Homo sapiens: one gene and its partners. The protein of the gene in region 1 interacts with the protein of each later gene in a biochemical or structural test. Each region holds a gene or a part of one and is shown in the gene's direction. Other genes may lie near its edges. The genes, in order: ACTR2, BMP2 and CTTN.

Region 1 (8,215 bases):
GATTTTTTTATTAAAATTTTCGATATGAAAATTTTTTAATTGGATAGCTTGTATAGTCAAACTTTGTACTTCTTAAATAAGTTAATACTCCATTTTAAATGTCCTGTTTGTTCTGAGGAAGGTAAGGATACTCAATTCCAAACATTTCTTTCAGTTAATCCTTTATAGTATGTGTGGTCCTAGAAGTAGATACATGAGGCATTTATTTAGAGTTGGCATTGGGTCATGTAAATGTAAGCCCCTATTTGTACATTAAATAAAAAGTAAATTTCTGTTGAAATCAGATCAGACTTATTTCAAATTGGTTGAAATAATACTGATTATATTATCTAATTATCTAATCTGTTATCTTGTACAACACACAAAAAAGACGTAAAGTTAGTAACAAAAATGGTATATATAATTACAGGTATAGATTTCCCCCCTAACATTTTATTAAGCAGTATTAAGAAAATGTAGCAATATTGAAATGATTTTACAATGAAACTTGTATATCCATCACCTGGATTCTGACATTAATATATATCATACTGATTTATTACATATCTGTTCATCTGTTCATTCATCAGTGCATCTTGTTTTTTGATGGATTTCAAAGTAAGTTGCAGATACCAGTATACTTCTCCCTGAATACTTCAACATGTGCATGTTATTAACTAGAATTCACAAATACAGATTTTTAGTTTTGCATATTCCTCATAGAAGAATCTAAACGGTTGGGTGTGGTGATTCATGCCTATAATCCTAGCACTTTGGGAGGCTGAGGTGGGCGGATCCCTTGAGCCCAGGAGTTCAAGACCAGCCTGGGCAACATGGTGAAACCCTGTCTCTACTAAAAATACAAGAATTAGCTGGGCATGTAGCCTGTAGTCCCAGCTACTTGGGAGGCTAAGGTGGGAGGATCACCTGAGCCTGGGGAGGTTGAGGCTGTGGTAAGCAATAATGGCACCACTGCACTCCAGCTTGGGTGACAGAGTGAGACCCCATCTCAAAAAAAAAAAAAAAAAAGAGTGTAAACATTTAATATTTCAGATATTTGAGTAATAAGTTAGTAAGTTATGGTAAATGAACTTCATAAGAAATTGCAACAAATTTTTACTGAGCATTTCTAGCATCTGTTTTTAACTTTGTTATACTTTTTGATGCTTTTAGTGGATTTTCCAGAGATCTGTTTGGTTTTTTGTTAGAGTCCTCACCTTGGTTTCATCTCTGATATTTTCTTTTTCTTTTTTTTTTAATTTAAAACTCATATATTTTTAAGCCTTTGTTTTAAAACATCTCATGTTGGCCAGGTGTGGTGGCTCATGCCTGTAATCCCAACACTTTGGGAGGCCGAGATGGGTGAATTACTTGAGGTCAGGAGTTTGAGACCAGCTTGGCCAACATGGTGAAACCCCATCTCTACTAAAAATACAAAAATTAGCCAGGCGTGGTGGCAGGTGCCTGTAATCCCAGCTACTCAGGAGGCTGAGGCAGGAGAATCGCTTGAACCTGGGAGGCAGAGGTTGTAGTGAGCTGAGATCATGCCACTGCGCTCTAGCCTGGGCAGTAGAGCGAGACTCAGTCTCAAAAAAATAATCTCGTGTTAATTTTGCTGCTGCTTTTTTTTGTCTCTCCATAATTAAAACTTAACGTATTGTAGCAAATATCTACTTCTGATACTAGTTTTTTTAATTGAATTTATCAACATATGTAGAAATTAGTATTATTTAACCTCTTGACTAGCTGTTCTCTAAAAATAAGTCTAAATGCTAGGACATCCTTACTTATTATATATAGAAAATGTGACTTTCAAATGTGGGTCATCTTAAGTATGCTCTCATTGGAGACAAGACTTGTGAGTATTATGCTTCATGTGTGATGGTGTAGTTTTCCAGTATACTTTAAGATTGAAAATGTTGCTCAGGAGACAATTTTAAAGGATGGGTTATTTGCCTATATCTTAATTTTTTATAACTCTACAAATTCTCATTCACCTTGGTGAGGCATATGTAGAAACAGTTTAAATTCTTATTCAGGCATATGTAGATAGAAGTTTGTGCTATTTATTAGTTGGTGTATGTATGCATTATTATAGAGTAATAAAGAATCATTTTATTTTTTGCTTCTTTCATTATGCTTTATAGTACTTACATTTATCATTTTGATATTTAGTGCAAAGAAATGTGCTGCATGCATTGAGCATTTTTCTACAAGTTTTTTTCCCCCTGATGTGCTATTTCACATATCACAGGCCTTATTTTTTGAACAATTGAGCAAAAGAAACAGATGAAACCTCATACAAAACCCTCCAAAATATGAAAATGTGGGGTTTATTTGTGCTAATGCTCTTCTTTTGGAAACATTTGTGTTAAAGGTAAGGTCAATTTATTGATTTAAACCACATTGTATGTAAAAATGTATTATCCATGATTAAACTTTCTAAGACATTGTTCTTGATAGAAAAGATTTTCTAACTTGTGGAATAAAAAGATTTATTTTGCAAGTGTCAGAAATATTAAAATTAATTATTCCCAAGTTTTCTTAAATATTATGCAAAACTTTGATCTACAGCTTTGACATAATTTTCTAGGATCTTATGGTTGGTGATGAGGCAAGTGAATTACGATCAATGTTAGAAGTTAACTACCCTATGGAAAATGGCATAGTACGAAATTGGGATGACATGAAACACCTGTGGGACTACACATTTGGACCAGAGAAACTTAATATAGATACCAGAAATTGTAAAATCTTACTCACAGAACCTCCTATGAACCCAACCAAAAACAGAGAGAAGATTGTAGAGGTGAGTTTTTATGCAGGATATGCATATGTGTATTTCTGTGATATTATGTTAAATCAAAAATTTTCTTACTGTTGCTATGGATAAAGAGAATAAAAATAATTGTTTTCCTTCAGATCTTATTAAGTATCTACTATATGCTAGTCATTATTCTAAGTAGGAAAGTAGGATAGATCAGTAAACAAAAAATCCTACTGCCATGGAGTGTATATATTCTAACAGGGAAAAACAGACCAAAAAAATTAAGTTTTTAATTTAGTGAGTTAATTAAGTTAATTAAGTTTTTATGGAGGAGCCAGCAGAAGGAGACTGAAAAGGCTAATACAATAAGCAGTTACAGAGTTAATTAAATGGTTTGTTAGAAGGTGAGTGATCCAGTTGACCCATGAGCAATGCAGGGGTTAGGGGCACCAACCCTCCCTACTCACGTGCAAACTTAACTACCACCCAAAATACTTAACTTCTAATAGCCTACTGTTGACCAGAAGCCTTACTGATAACATAATATGTATTATATACTATATTCTTAACAATAAAGTAAGCTAGAGGAAATACTGTTAAGAAAATCATGGCCGGGCGCGGTGGCTCACGCCTGTAATCTCAGCACTTTGGGAGGCGGAGGCGGGCAGATCACAAGGTCAGGAGATCGAGACCATCCTGGCTAACACAGTGAAACTCCGTCTCTACTAAAAATACAAAAAATTAGCCGGGCGTGGTGGCGGGTGCCTGTAGTCCCAGCTACTCAGGAGGCTGAGGCAGGAGAATGACGTGAACCCTTGAGGCAGAGCTTGCAGTGAGTGGAGATCGTGCCACTGCACTCCAGCCTGGGCGACAGAGCGAGACTCCGTCTCAAAAAAAAATAAAAAATCATAAGAGAAAATACATTTACTATACCTTAAGTGGATGTAGATCATCATAAAGATCTTCATCGTCATTGTCTTCACACCGACGAAGAAGAGGAGGGGTTGGTCTTGCTGTCTCGGGTGGCAGAGACAGAAGAGGTGCAAGGGGAGGCAGGAAAGATTTATTGACAAAAATCGTGTATAAGTGGACCTGTGTGGTTCAAACTTGTTGTTATTCATGGATCAGCTGTAGATGCTAAAGGCAAAATAAATCAGGTTAACGGGGAGTGGGAGGTTGTAATTGTACATAGGTTGTGAGAAGGTGATGTTTAAACAGACAGGGTAAGTGAGTTAGCCAGGGTATATAGGAGAATGGTATTCCAGATAAAGGGAGTAGCCAGTGTAAAGGTCTTAAGTTAGGAACAAGCTTGGTATATTAAAGAATAAGCAAGGAAGCCAGTGTGGTTGAGGAGAGAGCAACAGAAGATGAGGTCGAGTAAGTAATATTGGTGCCTTGTAGGCTCTAATTAGGAATTGGGCGGCTGGAAGTGGTGGTTCAGGCCTGTAATCCCAGCACTTCTGGGAGGCCGAGGTGGGCGGATCACGAGGTCAAGAGTTCGAGACCAGCCTGACCAACATAGTGAAACGCCATCTCTACTAAAAATACAAAAATTAACTGGGCATAGTGGTGCGTGCCTGTAATCCCAGCTACTTGGGAGGCTGGGGCAGGAGAATCGCTTGAACCCAGGAGGCAGATGCTGCAGTGAGCCGAGATTACACCACTGCATTCCAGCCTGGGCGACAGGGTGAGACTCAGTCTCAAAAAGAAAAAAAGGGAATTGGGCTTTTACTGTGGGTGAAATATGGGGCTGTTACAGGAAAAGGAGATGCTCAGATTTAGATTTCTCTTGTGTTGTGAGTATCCCACAAGGAGGCAAAGATAGAAGAGTTGGAGACTTTTTCAGTCATTTAAGCAAAAGATAATGATGGTTAGGATTGAAGTAGTAGTAGTAGAGATAGTGAGAAATTACCAGATTATAGGTCTGTTTTGAAGGTAGGGCTATAAATGATACGGTTCAACAAAGAAGAGGGTAGACAGTGGTGAAAAGGCCAAGGACCAGAGAGATAGGAGGAGCCAGCAGAAGGAGATTGAAAACGTTATTGAGGCCGGGCTAGGTGGCTCCCAGCACTTTGGGAGGCCAAGGCGGGTGGATCACTTGAGACTAGGAATTTGAGACCAGCCTGGCCAACATGGCAAAACTCCGTCTCTACTAAAAACACAAAATTAGCTGGGCATAGTGGTGCACGCCTGTAATCCCAGCTACGCAGGAGGCTGAGGCAGGAGAATTGCTTGAACCCAGGAGGTGGAGGTTGCAGTGAGCTGAGATCACCCCACTGCACTCCAACCTGAGCGACAGAGCGAGACTCTGTCTCAAAAAGAAAAAAGAAAAAGAAAAAAAAAGTTAATGAAATAATGAAATAAGCAGTTACAGAGGAAAGAGAGAGCAAGAGAGCTATGATCCTCATAGTTTAAATAAGTAATTTTTCAAGGTTCTTTTATTTTTGTATATATGAAGTAGAAATTTAATAACTTCTGTAGCTTTCCAGTTACTGTTTAATGTACATATTTTGTTTACGAATATGTTTAAATGTTGATGGAAATTTTTGAAAGGGTTTAGAAGAAAATGTTGTTAGTATTTTTAAAGCCTGTATTAAAACTCAGTTTTTGTATTAAGTGTTTTGAAAATCTAAGATCATGGTTTTAAAGAATCCATATGATTTCTTATGGCTTATATTTTAATATTCTTATTTGTTTATGACTACAAATATGTCTATGACTGATAGTGTCCTACCTTAATCTCATTAACATGCTTTCACATTGGTATGTGCATATATATGATCATTCTTCCATTTTCATCCCTGTGGAGGTGGAATAAAGGATGATGGAATAAAATACTATTCAGACTATCTAATTGCTTAATTGATGAGTATGTGTTTCAGAGTTGTAGAATTTAAATTCTGTGTAATTTTCATTGTGGTCAGTTGTAAAATTTCTAAATATTTAGATATTCAGAGTGATAGGCAACCCTACCAGTCAAGGGGTGCTCAGTCAAGATCACCAAAAAAAAAATCATGCAGGATGTTCCCAGCTGACCTGGGCTACAGAGAATGAACATGTGTGTGACCAGTGAGGGCAAAAAGGAAAGAACTCCTCCTTCCAGGGTAGTTCATTTGGAGGTTGTAATTACAGTCTTGATTCAAGTAGGGACTGGGCTCAGCAGCTAAGCCATTTCTGTATCTTCCAGCAATCAGGAATTAACCATTGATTTTTGTCTTTGCCGTGGCATTTTACTGGGTTTTTTATTTTTTCTTTCTTTCTTTCTTTTAATTTTTAAGCTGCTCAGGGTAGACAGAGCTACACTCTTGGCCCAGATTGAGGGAGGGGGTACGAGGCTCTGTAAAGCAATTTCTATATTTTGTCTTCGAATTAAAAGATATTTCCCGGCCGGGTGCGGTGGCTCACGCCTGTAATCCCAGCACTTTGGGAGGCCGAGGCAGGCGGATCATGAGGTCAGGAGATGGAGACCATCCTGGCTAACACGGTGAAACCCTGTCTCTACTAAAAATACTAAAAATTAGCCGGGTGTGGTGGTGTACGCCTGTAGTCCCAGCTACTCGGGAGGCTGAGGCAGGAGAATGGCGTGAACCAGGGAGGTGGAGGTTGCAGTGAGCTGAGATGGCACCACTGCACTCCAGCCTGGGCGACAGAGCAAGACTCCGTCTCAAAAAAAGAAAAAAAAAAGATATTTCCCTGGCTGGATGTGGTGGCTGACACCTGTAATCCCAGCACTTTGGGAGGCCGAGGTGGGTGGATCATGAGGTCAGGAGTTCGAGACTAGCCTGGCCAACATAGTGAAACCCTGTCTGTACTAAAAATACAAAAATTAGCCAGGCATGGTGGTGCATGCCTGTAGTCCCAGCTACTCAGGAGGCTGAGGCAGGAGAATCAGTTGAACCCTGGAGGTGGAGGTTGCAGTGAGCCAAGATTGCGCCACTGCACTCCAGCTTGGGCAACAGAGTGAGACTTCATCTCAAAAAAAAAAAAAAAAAAAAAGAATTTCCCTTAAGGGATATCAATTAAGAAAGTCTTGTTCAATACAGAGAGCTTTCTTTCACACTAATTAGTCATTAACTAATACACTAAGAAATCTTTGCTTTGTCACGCTTATGAAATGCTTGGGGACTTAGAAATCTGTCTTCAGATTTGGAGCTCTGTGGCAGCAGGACTTCAATAAGAAATAAGAGGAGCTGATGAAAATGGAAGACTATTTCAGGTCCATTTGATTCTATTTTGGGCAATTAATTCACTCTGTGACCATGAGGAAAACATTTATTTATTATGTAATTTTCTAAATACCAGTTTTTTTCTTTCTGTCTGCATTTACAGGTAATGTTTGAAACTTACCAGTTTTCCGGTGTATATGTAGCCATCCAGGCAGTTCTGACTTTGTACGCTCAAGGTAGGTTAAGCTTAACTGTTAGAAAAAACACTTCATCAAACATTTATTATGTATGTTTTATGTCAGAGAATTTGGTTTCTCAATAAGTTATAAGCCCCAGAAAACTACATTATTTATATACCACACTTTGAAATATTTTCAGTTTTTAAAATTTGTGAAATAAGATTTTATATACATTTTTATTTGCTAAATATGTATTTAAGGTAAAAAAAAAAGGCTTAAAGACTTATTTTTTAAAAAATAGGATATTCTCTCTTTTAAGCTATTTAAATTTTTTTTGAGACAGATTTTCGCTTTTGTTGCCCAGGCCGGAGTGCAATAGTGCAATCTTGGCTTACCACAACCTCCACCTCCTGGGTTCAAGTGATTTTCCTGCCTCAGCCTCCCAAGTATTTGGGATTACAGGCATGTGCCACCACACCTGGCTAATTTTGTATTTTTAGTAGAGATGGGGTTTCTCCATATTGGTCAGGCTGGTCTCAAACTCCTGACCTCAGGTAGTCCGCCCGCCTCAGCCTCCTGAAGTGCTGGGATTACAGGCATGAGTCACCGTGCCTGGCATAGCTATTTTAATTTTTTATGCATGGAATTTGTCCCCAGAATTGGCTTGAGTTAAAAAAAATACGCAGAGATTCAAAAAGGTAGCATAAAATCATGCCTGTCAAATATATAGTAGATTAAAAAGGAGAAGGTAAACATTTGGGAGTGCATTTCTAACTTTTGAGGTGGGTTTAATGGAGGGGACTACTTATATATTCTCTTGATATTGCCATTAGCAACTGCCTCCCTCTTTATTGGAAATAAAATATTGGCCACGTTGGGAGAGCTCTTTTTTTTTTTTATGGTCTTATAAATTCAACAGGAACTTACTGAGAATGTCTGGGCCTGTCAGATATGTGCCAAGGAGTCTTTTAGGCACTTCAGGGGATAATCCAGTGGGAAAAGAGTGTGGCACTGGAAATGGGTCAAGTGTGTTTGGAGAAAGGCCAGTATGTGTGTGACCTGATGGAAGTGGTAGAAAATAAGGTGAGGTGGGTAGGGAGGGCTCTTTGGGAAATAAAATGTAA
Region 2 (4,276 bases), on another chromosome or scaffold:
GACATGATTCTCCTTTGCTAAGGCATCTAGATTCAGTGCACAACTTACAGCTGTTTGTCTTTAGGGGAAATACAACTGTAAAATTAATAAAAACATAGTCTCTTCTTATGATAACATGGAACGATGGCAAAATAGATTTTGTTAGCACTTGGGTAGGAATTCTGAATGAAGCAGGCAAATTCTGTTGGCAGTGAAATGATAGGATGTGGTAAAGTTAGAATAAAATAAACTTAAATGTCTCAAACTCTCATGGTATATACTACCAGTTTAATAATAATGTTGTACCTTTGATGATTTGCAGACTACAAGCATTCAAGGTGCTGTGTTATATATTACTTGCTTGGAGAATAATACTTCTTAAAAATTGAAATTCAGAAATTTTAAATCAGACAAAGCTTTTGTGCATGGCCCACTTAAATGGCTATTTTGAAATAATGATAGTGGATATAGAAGGATTATTCTGTAATAGGATGAGACTGTTCCTTTTGTCATGGAGATCATAATCATATTTTTGTAAATTTTTATTATTTTTTTGGTTTTGTGTCCATCCTGCACACTATTACTGGGTAGGTACATGGTTTTTTAACATGGTTTATCTTTCAAAACTATAAAGGCATTGCAAACAGAAGACAGGTCATTTATTTTTCTTCCAAAAGCATCTAAAATGAGATTTTGATATTTGAGGTCATAAAGAGGTGAGAGAACAGACAACAGTTGGGAAAGCTATTTCTCTTGAAATTGTTTGGCCTTAATTACTACAGTGTCCTAGTACCACCCATACGTTTCCAAAGAAGTAGATCCCTGTAAATGCCTTTGTCTCTGGACTTTTGAGTAAAATAGTAGGGTGTGCTTTGCAAAATGTCATCGTTGATGTTGAGTTTCAGAGTCTTTAATTAGGAAGCTGAAATCTGTATATCGAGATTTGTAAATCATCTAAATTGCAGAGTAATGTTTTAGAATACTGCTTAAGGGATTGGCATTAAAGCCTTTTTTAAAAAAGAAATGCAATAATTTCCTCAAATCCTCACTCATTAGACCTCTACTAACTATAGTGCTGACTTTTTTTTTTTTTTACCCTAAAGTCTGGAATTCCAAAGAAATGCTTCACCATTTCCCCCATTATTATAGCCACCTGGAAGCAGTATTCATGTATTAGATCAAAAACACAACAAAGAATTATGAAAGGTTGTTTCCTGGTATGCAATGCATGATGACATGAACTTACAGAACAGAGAGAAGGGAGGCTCCATGTTTATTTAAAGAGGAAATTTTTATTTTCTGGTTACCTACTTTTACATGGGTTACATCAAATCCCACGATGAGGTTTAAAAATTCTCATAGATAATCAAACGTCATTACTTGGCTTACTGAAATTCAGACTTTTCTTTTTTCTTCCCTGTTTTTCTCTATCAAATTAGAATCTTTGGAAGAACTACCAGAAACGAGTGGGAAAACAACCCGGAGATTCTTCTTTAATTTAAGTTCTATCCCCACGGAGGAGTTTATCACCTCAGCAGAGCTTCAGGTTTTCCGAGAACAGATGCAAGATGCTTTAGGAAACAATAGCAGTTTCCATCACCGAATTAATATTTATGAAATCATAAAACCTGCAACAGCCAACTCGAAATTCCCCGTGACCAGACTTTTGGACACCAGGTTGGTGAATCAGAATGCAAGCAGGTGGGAAAGTTTTGATGTCACCCCCGCTGTGATGCGGTGGACTGCACAGGGACACGCCAACCATGGATTCGTGGTGGAAGTGGCCCACTTGGAGGAGAAACAAGGTGTCTCCAAGAGACATGTTAGGATAAGCAGGTCTTTGCACCAAGATGAACACAGCTGGTCACAGATAAGGCCATTGCTAGTAACTTTTGGCCATGATGGAAAAGGGCATCCTCTCCACAAAAGAGAAAAACGTCAAGCCAAACACAAACAGCGGAAACGCCTTAAGTCCAGCTGTAAGAGACACCCTTTGTACGTGGACTTCAGTGACGTGGGGTGGAATGACTGGATTGTGGCTCCCCCGGGGTATCACGCCTTTTACTGCCACGGAGAATGCCCTTTTCCTCTGGCTGATCATCTGAACTCCACTAATCATGCCATTGTTCAGACGTTGGTCAACTCTGTTAACTCTAAGATTCCTAAGGCATGCTGTGTCCCGACAGAACTCAGTGCTATCTCGATGCTGTACCTTGACGAGAATGAAAAGGTTGTATTAAAGAACTATCAGGACATGGTTGTGGAGGGTTGTGGGTGTCGCTAGTACAGCAAAATTAAATACATAAATATATATATATATATATATTTTAGAAAAAAGAAAAAAACAAACAAACAAAAAAACCCCACCCCAGTTGACACTTTAATATTTCCCAATGAAGACTTTATTTATGGAATGGAATGGAAAAAAAAACAGCTATTTTGAAAATATATTTATATCTACGAAAAGAAGTTGGGAAAACAAATATTTTAATCAGAGAATTATTCCTTAAAGATTTAAAATGTATTTAGTTGTACATTTTATATGGGTTCAACCCCAGCACATGAAGTATAATGGTCAGATTTATTTTGTATTTATTTACTATTATAACCACTTTTTAGGAAAAAAATAGCTAATTTGTATTTATATGTAATCAAAAGAAGTATCGGGTTTGTACATAATTTTCCAAAAATTGTAGTTGTTTTCAGTTGTGTGTATTTAAGATGAAAAGTCTACATGGAAGGTTACTCTGGCAAAGTGCTTAGCACGTTTGCTTTTTTGCAGTGCTACTGTTGAGTTCACAAGTTCAAGTCCAGAAAAAAAAAGTGGATAATCCACTCTGCTGACTTTCAAGATTATTATATTATTCAATTCTCAGGAATGTTGCAGAGTGATTGTCCAATCCATGAGAATTTACATCCTTATTAGGTGGAATATTTGGATAAGAACCAGACATTGCTGATCTATTATAGAAACTCTCCTCCTGCCCCTTAATTTACAGAAAGAATAAAGCAGGATCCATAGAAATAATTAGGAAAACGATGAACCTGCAGGAAAGTGAATGATGGTTTGTTGTTCTTCTTTCCTAAATTAGTGATCCCTTCAAAGGGGCTGATCTGGCCAAAGTATTCAATAAAACGTAAGATTTCTTCATTATTGATATTGTGGTCATATATATTTAAAATTGATATCTCGTGGCCCTCATCAAGGGTTGGAAATTTATTTGTGTTTTACCTTTACCTCATCTGAGAGCTCTTTATTCTCCAAAGAACCCAGTTTTCTAACTTTTTGCCCAACACGCAGCAAAATTATGCACATCGTGTTTTCTGCCCACCCTCTGTTCTCTGACCTATCAGCTTGCTTTTCTTTCCAAGGTTGTGTGTTTGAACACATTTCTCCAAATGTTAAACCTATTTCAGATAATAAATATCAAATCTCTGGCATTTCATTCTATAAAGTCCAACCTGTAAGAGAAAATGGTGCATTTGTATAGCGCTTACAATGATGACCTTGTGTTTGCATTTTTGTTTCTGAAGTTATATATTTTAGAGGGGGTGGGGGAAAGGTAATGAATGGCTGGAAAATTGCAGGCAAGTTATTTGATAAGTCATATTTGCACTAAAGGTGTTACCAGTGATTTAGTATTTTTCAAATGAACTTCTTTGGGGCAGAAAGATTTAAGGGAAAACTAAAGCCTACAAAACAAGCAAAACCTGGATAACCCGAGATAAAGTTTCAGAGATAATAGCCCATGCAACAGAGGCAACGGTGCCAGAAAATTAGAAAGGGAAAGTGTCGGAGATCAGCTTCTATAAGAACATCTGCCAGTTGGACTGACGCCCAAACAGAATGAAGTCAAATTAGGCTGCTCAGATTGAACACTTACCAGAGTGTCAGGGCTTCTGTACCCTGGGTTAGAATCAGACCAAGGAAGGGTTCAGCAGATGTTCATAAGAGCAGGGCACCCACAACTACCCACTATTTTACTGGCAGTATTTTAGGTCAGTTTCCAGGACTTTGCATCCCCTCTGATCCTGCCATGCATGATTGGTGAAACCTACCTCTAATCTCCTTGGAATTGGCTAAAAAACAGTGTGTTTATAATGGAACAGACTGTTATAATCAAATTCTTCCTAGGAATTAACTTTTGATGACTATGAGCTTAGTTACAGTTCGGAGGTTATGAGGTTATGTAAACCTTATCTTTAAATGTGCATGACAGTTATCTTTTACTAATGCTGGTTAACTTTTAAAATCTTGCAGCTCCTTTTTATCTCTAGTTCTATTGTTCTTGATTAG
Region 3 (8,215 bases), on another chromosome or scaffold:
GCTCCTGTCCAAATGTCAGCCTGAGTCTCTTCTCACCCCTCCCCCTCTGGAAGCCCCTCCTTTCCCAGGTGGAAGTTTGGGGTTTGGAGGGGACTCTGTGCAGAGGCAGCCTGCTCTCGGGGCCTGCTTCTGCTTGGCCAGCCCAGCCCCGCTCACCCAAGCCCCTGGGCTGTGGAGAAGCGCTCCCAGAGAAAGATGCCAGAAGTGCACCCCTGGCAGGGGCGGAGCACGAGCCTGTGTCTGGGTGCTTTGGGTCTAGCCTGGGTGGCTTGCCACTGACAAGGACTTTCCTTGTGCTCAGCTGGATCAGGGGGGTTGTGAATAGAGCCTGAGGCCTACAGATGTGTGTGTGTGAAGTTACCAGGTGTGGTTCTGCAGCTGGGGCATCTGCAGTGTGGGGCAGGCCCAGCCTGTCTGGAAGCCTGGGCTTCTCCTATCCACCCCAGGCCCTGCCCCTGCAGGGCCACACAGGACGTGCTACTTTGGGTGTTTAACCTGTGGATGGCATCAGGTGACGTGGGAATTTACAACTGTCCTGTTGGGGTCAAGCAAGGCCATAGATGCCAGGAACCGTGCTAGGGTCTCAAGACCAGGGGTGGTTTTCTCTTCAAAAAGACAAGACAGCACTACCATTGTTCCCGTTAGAGCAAGGCCGCCTGCAGAGGGAGAGGAGGGAAGGGGTTTGGAGTGGACACCTGGGGTTCAGATCCTGCCTGGGCAGCTCCCTGGCCAGTGTGCCTGTGCCTGCCACCTCACCCTCAGACTCAGCGTCTGGCACTGGAGCCCACAGGCTGTCAGTGAGTTTCCTGTTGCTGCCGTAGTCACCACCACACACAGCACACAGCTAGTGTCTTATAGCTCTGGAGGTCAGAGGTCCTCAAAGATGTCAGCAGGGCTGTGTTCCTCCTGGTGGCCCCTCGGCCCTGTCTTCCCATCTCCAGCCTCTGCTTTTGTTGTCACCGCCCCTCCTCTGTCCCTCACACTCCTGCCTCCCTCCTCTCAGGACCTTGTGATTACATTGGGTCCACCCAGGCAGTCCAGAGTTCTCCCCATCACAGAACCCTTAGTTTCATCACATACACAGTCCCTCCCCATGGGGTCTGGGGACTGCGATGTCAGCAGCTTTGAGGGGCTATTATCCTACCCCAGTTCATCCTTTGGCCCCTAAAGCTTCATGTCCATCCCATGTGCAAACATACTCAGCCCATTTTAAGGTCCCCAAAGTCTCAACCCATTGCAGCATCAACTCAGACTCCCAAATCTGTGCCTAAACTATCTAATCGTGTGTGGGCGAGAATGAGCTGTGGCCCAGTCCCGGCACTGTCGCGTCACTGGCTGTGTGATCTCGGCCTCAGAGCACACCTGCCCCTCGAATCCTGCCTAGGTGCTGGTGGGATCTGAGGCTTGGTGCTCCAGCTCCCCTGCCCCTCGGATCCTGCCTGGGTGCTGGTGGGATCTGAGACTTGGTGCTCCAGCTCCCCTGCCCCTCGGATCCTGCTGGGGTGCTGGTGGGATCTGAGGCTTGGTGCTCCAGCTCAGCCTTGGTGTGGGTGTTTTCCACTCCTTTCCCCAGAGCATGCCTAGAGCTTGCACACGATCTTCTGAAACACGGCAGGCGTGACAGTGCAGAGTGTCATGGCAGCATTCTGATTGCTGTTTGTTTTCAATCACAGGAGCAAGCCAGAGCCAAAACGCAAACGCCCCCTGTGTCGCCCGCACCTCAGCCAACCGAGGAGAGGCTGCCCTCGAGCCCCGTCTATGAGGTTGGTGTCTTTGGTGTTTGAATGAGCGTGAGTGACTTACTGCCAGAGCCCAGGTCCTGTTTGTGGAGTGGAGGAAGCCCTTGCAGGCAGGCAGTGTGGCGTGGGTGTAGAGGGCATCGCTGCATTCCACGCCCGGAGAGGGGTGGGCCAGGAGCGCCTGGGGGGTGGGTGACATGCCTCAGTGCTGTCAGGGGATAGCTGTGCAGGCCCACATGCCATCCTTTCACCCCTCTGCAGCCTGTTGTAGTCTGGCCACTGTCACTGCAGTCCCTGCTGTAGTCACCTGCTATCAGATAATCAGATGGGGGTGTCTTCACCCCACTTGCTCTCTGCTGTGCAGGACGCCGCCTCACTCCCTAATGGCAGTGCTGCCCTCCTTCATCACTGAGCCCCTGCCTCCCGCACAATCTGCCTTCTATGCCTGCCCCATTCAGCTCTCCAGCCTTGCAGCCCCTCATGAGTGTGGCTGCAGACATGCTGTCCGGCCCCTCCCTGTGCTGCTGACCCCCTCTCATGGGTCCCCCAGTGTTCCGTCCCCATCCCTGAGTTACGGAGCCGCCTGCCGATGCCCCGCCCATCCCTGACTTTGGGTCTCCTGCTCCCCGCCAGCACCTCTGCGCTAACCACACCCTCTACCTGTAACCACCTCTCCTGTCCCCAGCCCTTGCCCTTTCTCCATCCCATGGCCATCATCCTGGTCTATGCATTCATCTCTGCTCGCCCAGGAGCCAGTCAGTTACAGGGGTCACACTCCAGACCATGGTAGTTCAGGAGCCCAGAGAGAGCCCTGGAGACAGGCCGGGTCTGGGATCTGGGCCTCGATGGCCGTGGCCTTGTCACCACCCGACTGTCCCTCCTTGGCTACGCTGCTGCCTGCTGCCTTTACCCTGCCGGGCCCTGGGGGGATGTGGTAAGTGAGGCCTTGCAGCTTGTCAGGAACCGGCCTCCCCCTCTAGTCCCTCCCCTTGGCAGCCAGCGCCATCTGCCTCAAGGAAGCTCCGACCCTGCCCCTCCCGTGCAGTTCAGCCCTTGTGTGGTTCCTGGTGCCTGTGCTGAGGGTGGAGTCGCTCTCCCTGCCCGATTACTCTCCCTGGCTAGCAGCTCTCCACCACTGGCTCTTCCCAGATCTCCTGGGTGCGCGGTTCTGAGCTGTCGGCATTGCTTTCTTTCAGTCACTGCCGGTGACATCAGGTGGACCCTGGTCAGAAACATTGATTAAAGCCACTGTCGGTGATAAGCAGTTCAGAATTTTCGCTGGGGCTCCGAAGCGGCAGTGGTTATAGATAGAGAGGTGTTCCACTGCGCACCTTTGTAGTTGAATGTGATTCTTTGGCGATGCCCTGTCTGTAGGCTCAGCTGCTCTGGAGCCACGTGGTGAAGCCGCTGTCAGGCAGGGCCAGGGTCGAGCAGCACAGGCAGGAGGGTGGCCGCTCGGCCCAAGGGTGCCTTGTGTGGCCTTGGAGATGAGGCCTAAAAAAAGAAATCAGCCAAATTAACCCAACAAAGACAGGCTCTACCCCCAGGCAACAGTGTGGGCAGGGGCGTGTCTCCTAACCTGCTGTGTGGGCGTGGTTATTGCAGGACTGGAGTGTCGGTGGTGAGGACCGGGTCATCATCGGGAAGGAAATGGCATGTGGGCACTCACCACCATGGTGAACACACCGGCAGGCCTGGCCTTCCTATACCGCGTCTGTTTTCTCAGTCCTGGCTGGGACTGAGAATTAGATGGCCCGTGGGTTTCTGCTGGCTGTGGCAGTACAGCTACTGCTCTCTAGAAGCCAGCATGGGCCCCGTGCCATGTGCGTGTGACCCTTCCCCAGGATGCGGCTTCCTTCAAGGCAGAGCTGAGCTACAGAGGCCCTGTGAGTGGGACGGAGCCGGAGCCCGTGTACAGCATGGAGGCCGCTGACTACCGAGAGGCCAGCAGCCAGCAGGGCCTGGCCTATGCCACAGAGGCTGTCTATGAAAGCGCAGAGGCCCCGGGCCACTATCCCGCAGGTACTGGGGCCCCACGCTGCAGCGCCCTGCCCAGGGCAGGGAGCTCCCGGGACATCCTGCTCGACCTGTGGCGTCGTTGCGAGGAGCGTGGGTTTCCCACTGACACGCCTTTGCTTGCTTGCTATAGGGTCTTCTTGTCCCTGGAGGGAAGTGCTCTAGGCACATTTGGGGCATCGGCTCCTGTGCTGGGTCCCAGGAAGATCCCCATTGTGCTGGGGACGGGTGGGCAGGGGCAGAGGAAGGGAGGGTTTCAGCTGCCGCCCTGTGTCCTTGAGACAAAATCTTAGGAAGTGTCGTCTAAAACTTGAGAAGGCTGGGAACCTGTGTGGGACTTTGTATTGTTCAGCTCTGTCATGGCTTTCTTTTAGAGGACAGCACCTACGATGAGTACGAGAACGATCTGGGGATCACAGCCGTCGCCCTGTACGACTACCAGGCTGGTGAGCGGCCTGCAAAAGCACTTGGAGGGGAGACCCAGGCAGCTGCGCCTGCCTCTGCTTGTTTTCTGAGAATTCACTTCTCTAGCGTTGTTAGTTTTAGAAGTAATTTATGTTGAGATAATTTCAGAGATATAGAAAAGTTGCAGGTATAGTGCCAAGAACTCCCATGTTCCCTACCCGGATTCCATCTCTGCACACACACGCACACACCCCCTGTTATCTTTAGTATTCTCTGAACCCTTGGAGAGCTGCAGGGGTGCTGCCACCCCCAAAGACTCCAGCGTGTTTCCCAAGATCAAAGATGCTGTCCCACAGGGACACCCCACCCTCCAGGTGAGGGGGCCGCACAGATGCCTTGATGTTCGAGACCCCATTCCTGCCTGTCCTGCCCCGGCCGCCAGCTCCCGTGTGGCCTGCACGTTCCCCTGAGTTCCCTTTGCGGCCTTGGCAGTTTAAGAGCAGCCTCAGCTCCTGGGCTGGCCTCAGCCGCCCGCCCCGTGTTCCCTCAGGGCCAGGCTGAGCTGTGCTCTGGTGGCGGTGAGGTCTTGGAGACCATGCGGTGGGGCTCTCTGCTGGGCCGCATAGCATCCACTTGTCCCTCTGTCTCAGCCACCACCTGGTCCACAAAGTCACCACCACCCCTCTGCAGTTGACAAGCATCTTACGGGTGGCGTGGGATTCCCCTCAGAACCCCCGGCCTCTGCCTCTTGAGTGCTTCCCGTTTGCAACTTTCCATCAGCGCGGAAGCTGGCATTCTACCATAAGTGAGCGCTGGCCGTCCCCGTTCAGTGCCTTTTGCACACGTGCATTTGCGTACACGCATGTGGGTGTGTCTGTGGCATCTCGGCACCTGTGCGTGGATTCTCATCACCGTGGCTTTTGCCCTCCATTCCCATTTCAGCCATCACCTCGGGCTTCTCTCCGGGTGTCCCCTGGCTGTCCTTCCACTGCGGCCTCCGCAGCCCATCTCCCCACCCCCTCCACAGACACGTCTGCCAGAGAGAGGGGAAGGGAGGGCAGGCGGGGCTGGAGTTATGTGGTGGAAACCTGCTCCTGAGGAAGGGGTCCGGGTGGGGTTGGTGCTTGTGTGAAGGGCTCTGTGCCTCTTTGTACTCTCTCGGTTCATGTTCACAAATCCTGGCCTTGGTGGCATGGGAGAGGCAGCAGGAGCCTCCGCGGTGGTCCGCATCTCTGCAGGGGGCATCTCTGAGCAGGCTGCCTGGGAGCTTGCTCTGGGTTGTGCTTTTTTTCTGGCAGACCAGGAAACGCTTGCACTTCAGCATCTTTCTCTGTGTTCTCTTCCCCAGCGGGCGATGATGAGATCTCATTTGACCCTGATGACATCATCACCAACATCGAGATGATTGACGACGGCTGGTGGCGCGGGGTGTGCAAGGGCCGGTACGGGCTCTTCCCAGCCAACTATGTGGAGCTGCGGCAGTAGGGCCCCCAGCCCCCCCCCGGAGCTGCGCCCTGGATCCTCACACTACAGATCAGGCCTTCTTTGGTTCTTGGGTGGTTTTGGGTTTTTTCTGTTTTTTTTTTTTTTTTTTTTTTTTTGAAGGTGGGGAGGGGAATATACACATTGCTTTTATATTTAATACTTTTGCTGATGCTTTTGAAAATGTTTATGCCACAGAATTTGCTAATATATTGTAATCACATTCCTTAGGAGGACTTTGGTAATTGGTTTTATGCATTGATGGTTTTTTTTTTCTTTTTTGCCAAATTGACTGTCACGCGGCAGCTTCAGGGAGCTCGCATTCTCTTGTGTTCGTGTTGCCCTCGTGCCCATCAAGTGCAGTCGGGACCTCCCAGGACAAGCACGAGGCCTCAGGTCGGCCCTGTGGCGGGTAGGCAGGAAGGACTGTCCCAGACGAGGGGCTTCCTCTAGAGTCTCACTGCTGGGGAGGAGAGGACTGGGCCTGATGGAAGTTAACCCGGAGCTAAGTCACCCAGAGCACAGGAGCTGCCATGTCAGATGGGAAATCTGCCTATGTCATACCGTGACAGCCCGCAGGATCAGGTGACTTCTAGCAGAGACCCTGGTTTTTTTCCTGTGCCCACTCCGGCTTGTCCTCATCTCTACCCATCCCCTGATGCCCAGGTCACCGGGAGGGCTGCTGGGAGCCTCTCCTGTCCCCGCCGGGCAGTGTCACTGAGTCCTTGAAATCCTCCCCTGCCCCGCGGGTCTCTGGATTGGGACGCACAGTGCAGTTGAGGTCTGCGTCGGGCTTGGCTTTTCACAAAGGCTGATGTCTTAACTGTCACCCATATGGTCCCTGGGCCACCGGGCAGCCTGGGGCGGTGTGTGTGCCATGTCACAGCATGGCCTCTCGGCCTTGGGAAGGAAGGCAGTGCCTGCTCTGCTGTGAGCCGCCAGGAACCCTCCTCCTGTCAATGGGGGTGTAGTATTTTTGCCAAAATATCATGTTCAATTTCAGTAGTTTGATCAGTTGAAGGCTAGAAGTGTGAAGTGCAGATGAGTGTGTGTTCTTCCCCAAGGTCCCCCCACAGCTCCAGGACACCGCTGTCCTGGCATTTGTGGCCACTCACTTTGTAGGAAACTCATCTCCTTCCTGAGGAGCCGGGAGGCTGGACCAGTCCCGTCGTGCAGTCAGGTGGGCGGTGTGTCTTTCCAGAAGGTCACGTGGAAATGTCTCGGGACTTGGGTCCCGGAGTGCCCGTGAAGCGTGTTTTTGCTCCTGAGGTGCATTTTCTCATCATCCTTGCTTTACCACAATGAGCAATGAGGTCGGGTTTTATATGCAACTTATTGTATCTGAATTCCTGTAGCACACCTCATAGGTATGATTTTTTTAAATTAAAGAATTCAGAATAAACATTTTTTGATCCACTTGCGTGATTTGCTTTGGTCTGTGGTCACTCCGTTCTGCAGTGGAAGCTGCGTCGACACTCTCGGTGTCCTGCGCCCCGGACCTGGGCTGGCGGAGGCTCTCCTGCCGTCCAGTGCGTCTCACGCGTTCTGTTCTGGCTTTAGACCGAACCGTACGTTCCCTTTTCAGTGTTCATTCAAAGGTGCTGCTTATGAACTGAAATGTGTTTACTCTGGCAGATGATTCAGTTTTTTGCACAAAGGTTCCAAGCAAAATAAAACACTCTGTGCTTAAAAGTCATTTCTGAATTACAGTTCTCAAATCCTGAGGGGGATTTTGCTCCCAGTCTCGTTTTGCTCAGGGGCACCAGAAGTTAAAGGCTAAGGGGAACAGTGGCACTGAGGGAGCAGGTGTGCCCTCGGGAGCCGGGGGTGCTGGGGAGCTGGGTTCCGGCTCACACTTCTGCCCATCAGGTGCTCCCAGGGAGCTTTCGGCTACACGACATGCCTGCTACCCCTTCCAACCTGGGTGGTGACGGAGCACTGCCTCCTCCCTTGGGCTGTCCCACACCTGCCTCTGGCTTAGGAAACAGTGCCTCTGCCAGCTCTGCCCACAGGAGCCTAACGTGAGAGTGCCCCCGCCCTCCTGCCACAACCGGGCTGCTGTGGGTTCTGCATCACAGGGTTGCAGCCCTAACGGCGAGCCCCGTCCCACACAGGGCCTGTCTGCTGGGTGAGATTGCAGCCACCTGCAGGGAGCTGAGTCCTGAAGAAATGAGGCATGAAGGCTTGTGAACCAGGGGAAAGTCCCAGCCAGGGTGGGCAGACGGGGTCAGGGGGCTGGAGGACAGGGTGTGACGAAGGGAGGGGGCCATGCAGAAAGGGCCCCCGCTGGCCCACTGTCTGCCCAGTCGGTGTGTGCCTGTGCCGCCTGCGGATGAGCATGGCAGGGGCTCAACAGGAGCGGGACACATCTTGAGTGGGTCTGTGTTTCTGTTCTATTGGTGGCCAAGCGTGGCCTGGCAGCTTGAGTGCCTGGAGCCAACCACCTGAATCTTAGCCGCTTTCTTTTTAGATGTGGTTGGGGTTTTTTGTTTCTGTTTCTTGAGAAAGGGTCTTGCTCTTTCGCCCAGGCTGGAGTACAGTGGCGTGATCTCCGCTCCTGCAACCTGTGCACC

The links.
Region 2: the proteins of ACTR2 (region 1) and BMP2 form a complex in vitro, tested with the Homo sapiens proteins (one study listed by BioGRID).
Region 3: the proteins of ACTR2 (region 1) and CTTN form a complex in vitro, tested with the Homo sapiens proteins (one study listed by BioGRID).

Annotation. Positions count from the first base shown.
Region 1 is NC_000002.12:65,243,952-65,252,166, forward strand, and holds part of ACTR2 (actin-related protein 2), read left to right. Parts: intron 1-2,572; coding exon 2,573-2,788; intron 2,789-7,075; coding exon 7,076-7,148; intron 7,149-8,215. UniProt on the Homo sapiens protein: ATP-binding component of the Arp2/3 complex, a multiprotein complex that mediates actin polymerization upon stimulation by nucleation-promoting factor (NPF).
Region 2 is NC_000020.11:6,776,827-6,781,102, forward strand, and holds the end of BMP2 (bone morphogenetic protein 2 preproprotein), read left to right. Parts: intron 1-1,418; coding exon 1,419-2,263; 3' UTR 2,264-3,420; downstream 3,421-4,276. UniProt on the Homo sapiens protein: Growth factor of the TGF-beta superfamily that plays essential roles in many developmental processes, including cardiogenesis, neurogenesis, and osteogenesis. Induces cartilage and bone formation.
Region 3 is NC_000011.10:70,429,518-70,437,732, forward strand, and holds the end of CTTN (src substrate cortactin), read left to right. Parts: intron 1-1,673; coding exon 1,674-1,763; intron 1,764-3,583; coding exon 3,584-3,761; intron 3,762-4,129; coding exon 4,130-4,201; intron 4,202-5,508; coding exon 5,509-5,645; 3' UTR 5,646-5,948; coding exon of another isoform or gene 5,949-6,227; 3' UTR 6,228-6,764; coding exon of another isoform or gene 6,765-6,891; 3' UTR 6,892-7,058; downstream 7,059-8,215.